Linked DNA regions of Homo sapiens: region 2 is linked to region 1. The links come from fine-mapping of genetic effects on plasma protein levels. Region 1 holds a variant in brackets. A gene starts in the other region. All regions are shown on their forward strands. Region 1 overlaps LOC107984599 (a long non-coding RNA gene). Region 2 holds the start of MEPE (matrix extracellular phosphoglycoprotein).

What was found. A credible set is the group of variants that fine-mapping cannot tell apart. PIP is the posterior inclusion probability: the model's chance that the variant is causal. Protein levels are from antibody-based Olink assays in UK Biobank. Linkage for the fine-mapping came from a reference panel and not from the study's own genotypes, which makes the PIPs less certain.
Region 2: MEPE starts here. The variant in region 1 is the best candidate, but not a certain one, in a credible set for the plasma level of the MEPE protein (UK Biobank, PIP 0.75).

What each region holds. Positions count from the first base shown.
Region 1 is chr13:22,450,612-22,453,538 of GRCh38, forward strand. It overlaps LOC107984599 (a long non-coding RNA gene), which reads left to right. Exons shown (of 3, transcript XR_001749779.2): 2 at 2,849-2,927. Among named protein-coding and RNA genes, the nearest start is that of LINC00540, 240 kb to the left of the region's middle. The variant T/G (reference allele first, on the strand shown) is at 1,701.
Region 2 is chr4:87,831,424-87,834,350 of GRCh38, forward strand. It overlaps MEPE (matrix extracellular phosphoglycoprotein), which reads left to right and starts at 1,546. Exons shown (of 4, transcript NM_020203.6): 1 at 1,546-1,591.

The DNA of each region.
Region 1 (2,927 bases):
ACTACATGTGCAAACTGCATGGCTGAGTTTGCAGAAATGCAATATTTTCTTTCCTGGCTCTATAGTCACTTGTCTCCAAACTCTCATGACCTTCTTTTTATAGATTATGCCTAAGATACCATCTCTAATTAAATTTCCGTGTAGTGTGAATAATTCAATTTATCAAACTCTCGTCATTGAGACAAGCAATTCACCACATTCAATGTAATTATTAATGTAAATTCCTCCAGATAATATCTTCATTGACAGACAGCATCCCTTCATTTTTGTGGGCCTCGCAGATGATTTACACAAGAGAATTTGATATGTTTTTATTTATTTTTTCCTCCAGAAAAAGAATCCTAAAAAAGATTCTTGTGAAAGCACTAGACACAAAGATGTTGACATGTTGTACCTCTAAGCAACATAATTTATGTTTGGGGGAAACGCCCAGTGTTGGGTTCTGACCATCAATATTTCTGAAAAAAAAATGTAGACTTTACAACAAAACAGTTTACTTTTTTAGTATAGATTATCAAATAAAAAGGATGAGTTGAGCAATTATGCGGCCTCTAGCAACTTATATCAGAAATAGAAATAACCCAGATTCAAAAATAACTTACAGGCCCATCAGTCAATCAAATAAGGGTGCTGCTGAAAAAAGACCTAAATATCTCAGTCACAACAAAGACAACTATTTTCAGAGAGGGCACTGTAGACAAAAACACTGTTTGCAGCTGCAACCCAGCCCTAAGGAGGGCTGCAGACTGGGTTGGGAGAGAGGCCGGTAATGAGCAAAACGAACTCTGTAGCCTAGCTCTCCAGTGAGAAATGCAGGCCAATCAGACCATTTTTAGCCTGCCACAATTGTCCAGGGAGCCTCAGGGCACAAAGGTTGCACAACTGCACCCTTGAATAAACACATATTTGGATTAGTGTCATAAGAGCATGCACGATTGGCTTTTCTCCAAAGCCCCACATTTTGACTGCTGGGACAGGGAATAAAGCAATGTATTATACGGTTAACCAGTGGGCCCAGAGGAAAGAGAAAGAATCCATCCAAGCGTCTCAGAGCACAAGCCATAAAGCTGCCTGCTGGAACTGCAGGCATCCACAAAGAGCCCATCACTCCTTCATCTGCCTAAGAAAACTTTCAATGCCTAGTGCTAAGAAGCAGAAAGAGCCACACTGGCTAGGAGGGGGCTAGTGATAGAATTTGAGGAAGATGAATGAACCGCATGTTAAGCTGCTTCACTGTGGATCCCAGTTTAAAAGCCCTGGTAAATAATTTGCCATCCACTGTTACCTGGAATAGGATGAAAGGCACTGTGTGAGTCGATCCATTACACTACTTAAGATAACTTTGAAAACATGGGAAAACAAGTGATTCCATTGCCTTTGAAAATAAAATAATCTTGCAAAACTACTTTGGTTCTTAAATAAAATATAAATTGGATGTTGGCATTTGCAATATGAACCAAGGAATTATGATGGGAAAAGTTAACGTGACTGCATGCATCATCAGTCATGAGAGAATAGGAACAGCTTTGGAAGACAGCATGGGGAGGATGAGAAGCCAGTGCTTTCCCATCATCAGAGCCCTCAGGCTCTGAAAGAGTGGCCCTGGGAGCAATCTGGAGAAAGGTGGCACTGGCATGGCAATGTCATCTGTTTTTCATATGCCCCTAAGTGAGCTCCAAGGCTGGAAAATCATAATTTGG[T/G]ATCTTCTCCAGGCCTTCTAAAACCATGGTGCATAAATTTCTGAGGGTATTTATAAGTGACAGACATACTTCCAAGTACCATTAACTAGAGTACTCTATTCATGACATATCCTACTTGGTTTAGTTATGATAACTCAGTCAGCAATTCATTTACTTATGCACTCATTTATTCACCTAATGTCTATTGATTATTTAGAATGCACCAGGCACTTGATCCAGCTGTCCAGAATACAAGATATACTCCTGAAGTCTGACTTTCATTCATTAACAACCACATGGATGAAGAAAGCATAAAAAAAGAAACCATTAAAAGATAGCTGGATTATAACCTAGCTCCCATTTGCACAGAGAGCTGTGGAAGTCAGCAGGTAACAGTTAGCTTTGGGACAAAATTCATAAGATGAATCATTCTTAGGACACGTCACTTATGCAAAGGTTCAATCTTAAATATTTCAAGTCATGAAACTTCTGAGGACCTCTACAGTTGCTTTACAAAGCTATATGTGGGTTCTGTTTAGTAGAAATATTTCTCAGTTACTAGTTTATTGGCTCATGTACTTTGTACCTCATCCCAGGCCATTCTCCTCAGCCTGGAGGAAATTTGGTAGTCATTAAGGACATACAATGTAATAAAGTGTATATTGGTGGCAATATGTTTCCTTTCTCTGTCAGCTGAGAGAGCCCAGAAGCAATAACACCCCAGTAGCAATTAGCACACCTCCTGCCCAGATCATGGCTTCTAATACTATTCTCCAACAAAGGAAGCCCAAGCCCCTTGCAGAAATAAGTGATTCTAGGGCTGAGGCAGAAAAAGGAGGCTGAGCCTGGGGCATCTTGTAGTGTCAGTAAGTAAGACAGCATTTAAAACAAACAAAGCACCCCAAAAACCCACCTGACGACGATGGGGGTTATGTCCAAGGGACACAAGAGCCAATTGAAGGAGCCCAGATTGCCAAATACACAGCAATTTGAGCAACCAAAAACTATCACAGGATTGGATCATAACCCAGTGCTTAGGACCAATATCCATGTGTCCATATTGTTATCAATTAATGGTTGAATAAATAAATAAATGAAGAAGAAGAGATGCAAGCCCTGTGCAGAATCATTCCATTTAATGTATAATTTACATTCTGTTCTCCCTCCAGGAAGTGGAGGATCACATCTCACCCTGCAAGTGCGAGCTATGCAGAGTGCTGTTCTGCTGAGGAATGCGTATGGAAAGGT
Region 2 (2,927 bases), not on the chromosome of region 1:
CTTGATTGTTTTCTCACAGGCCACATCTGGTACCTCAGCAAATCCTATTACCATTTTTCCCCAAACTTCTTCAGAATATGACCACGTCTCATCATCCCTTCTGCCGCACTCAGGTTCAAGCCTCCATCATCTCTGGCTGGGATTATTACAAGAGCTTCCTAGCCATTCTCTCTGCCTTTTTCCTACTTCAGTCACTCCTCAATCATGCCTGTGCTTAAAACCTCCAAGGACTTTTCTTCTCACTCATAGCAATGTCAAAAGCATTGCAATGACCTACAGGTCCTATACCATCTGCCATCTAATACCCTTCTGACCTCATTTGTTGCTATTCCCCTTGCTCAGGCCTCCAACCAAAGTGGCCTCTTCTCTGTTCCTGGAACAAGTCACAAGGCTTTTATTTCTGGGGCACTATTTTTCTTATTTCTTCTTCCTGGAATGGTCTTCCCATAGACAGTCATATGGCTGCAGGCTTATCTGAGTCTGTTCATGCTGCTACTACAGAATACCACAGACTGGGTAATTTATAAAAAACAGAAATTTATTTCACACAGTTCTGGAGGCTGGGAATTCCGCAATGAAGAGGCCAGCATGTTCATTGCCTGACGAGGGCTGTCTATCTCTTCTTCCAATTTGGCACCTTGCTACTGCATCTCCAGAGGGGACAAATGCTGTGTCTTCACACTGCAGACAAGCAGAAGGGCAAAAAGGGACTAGCTAGTTTCTTCTTGCCCTTTTATAAGGTCATTAATCCCATTCATACTGGGGTCTGCCTTCATGACTTAATCACCTTCTAAAGAGCCCATCTCTCAATACTGTCACCTTGGGTTTAAGTTCTAACATGGGAATTTTGGAGGGACACGTACATTGAAACCATAACAAGGTCTTTACTCAAAAGTTGCCTTCTCATTGAGGCCTTCCCAGGACTTCCTATCTAAAATTTCAACCCAGTGTCCCCACCCCCAATGCTTGTTACTCCCCAACAATACTTTTTCTCCTTAGACTTAGTATATGTCACTATCTAATCTATTTAACTCATTTATCTTGTTTATTATCTGTCTCCCTTATTGGATTCTAAGCTCCAGGAAGACAGGGATTTTTTTCTGTCTTGTTTTGTTCACTGCAGTTTCGCCAATGCCTGTCACACAGTAGGCACCTAAAACATTTTTGTTAAATGTTGCTGAATTTCACTTAGATAAAATTGACATCATAAACTTTCTACATAAAAGGATAGCAAAAATGTTTTCCATTTCTAAACTTGTTAGGTATTCAGTCAGTCCTAATTAGCAGTTCTGAAATCAATTTTGATTATCTGACAACATGATGTCCAAACTGAGGTATTTATATTTTCTGTTTATCCCACTTTCTGGAACATTTGATAGTAGCTTTCTACCACAAACACATTTTTAGATTAAAATTACTTCACCCCCTATGGTTATCTGTGGGCGCTTGTAACAAATTGTTTGCTAGCGCTGAGTGAGCCAGTGCTGATTGGCCATTGGGAACTCTAACAAACTTTAAATTTCAGCAAAATGCCCAGAGACTTCTAATCCTGCAACAAGAAGCCAGGTATTCTGAAGGTGAAAGATACCAGGTAATTTGGCTTTCATGTTCTTGACAGCAAATAGCTTTATATCATAGTTGTTTACGTTTTTAAGATGCTTGCCACCCAAGTATGGTTTTATTACTTTTGAAAATCTTCTCTACTGAGCAAAACTGTGTAATATTTGGTGCTTTGTTTTATAAAATAGGAAATGCGTTACCATGCTCTAGAAATCATCAACTAAAATTGATGATTTGATAGCAACTTTCTCTTTTTTTTTGTTATTAGCATTATCAAGATCCACAGTAACTCAGACTTCAGTTTTCTTCTATCCCTTCACTTAACAAACTGCAATCAGGAAAATCTGATCTTATTCATACTTTGAAACCTCATCTGTGTTGATATTTCTACTGATGAGCATTAACTCATTTCATAAGTTACTTACGTTGTCCTGATCTATAAAATGCTTGGAAGGGTAAACTATAGTTAGAATTTAGATCCTTCTAATTGCATTAATTTAGAAAAACATAGCCTAGGATTTTAGAATATATTTAATAGTTACAATCATTTCTCCAAATACCAGCTTTTCCTTGAGGTGTTTAAAGATTGCAAGAATATTTAGATTATTTTTTCCCATAAAAACAAGTTTTTCTTCAAGAAATCTCAGAGTGGCATAAATTTATTGTTTTCACAATATAATAATAAGATCAATAGTCCAAAGACATGTTGACTTTTTTCCAATCTAATGGCTACTTAAGTGAGCTCACTAGTTCCTGTTGGTATATTTACCAAAATATAAACAAATACCTTTATTTGTAACTAAATGTTAGTATTTTGAACATCATTTTGTTGAGCCCAATATAAAATATGATTTGCCTTTAAGTCAACTGTACATGGATTTTTCTGTAATAAGATAAAAGAATAGAAAGTTATTTAAGGTGGCAGAGAGTCTTGATGAAGAAAACTGGGTCTAGAGCCACATTGCCTGGATACTAATCCCAGTTCTGCCCCTTAATATTTGTGAATTCTAAAGCAAGTTATTTGATCTTTTTGTGTCTATTTCCTAATCTATACAACAGGCATAGTAACGCCGCCTAACTTGTAGGGTTGTTGTGAGGCTCAAATAATTGAATGCATGCAAAATTCTTAGACCCAGTGCTTGGCTCATTTTAGTATTCAATAAATGTTAGCCATTAATGTCAGTGTTGCAAAAATTAGTTCACTCTCCAGCCCATGGATGGCTACTAATTCAGACACATTGCTAATGAACATGAGACACAGATTAGGGCACCAGCCCGGAGGCAGATAAGCTTTCCTCACAGTGCAATCTGCTACCCTGACAAACTTAGAGTGTGTTATGAGCTGCTACATCAACTTAATGTCATTT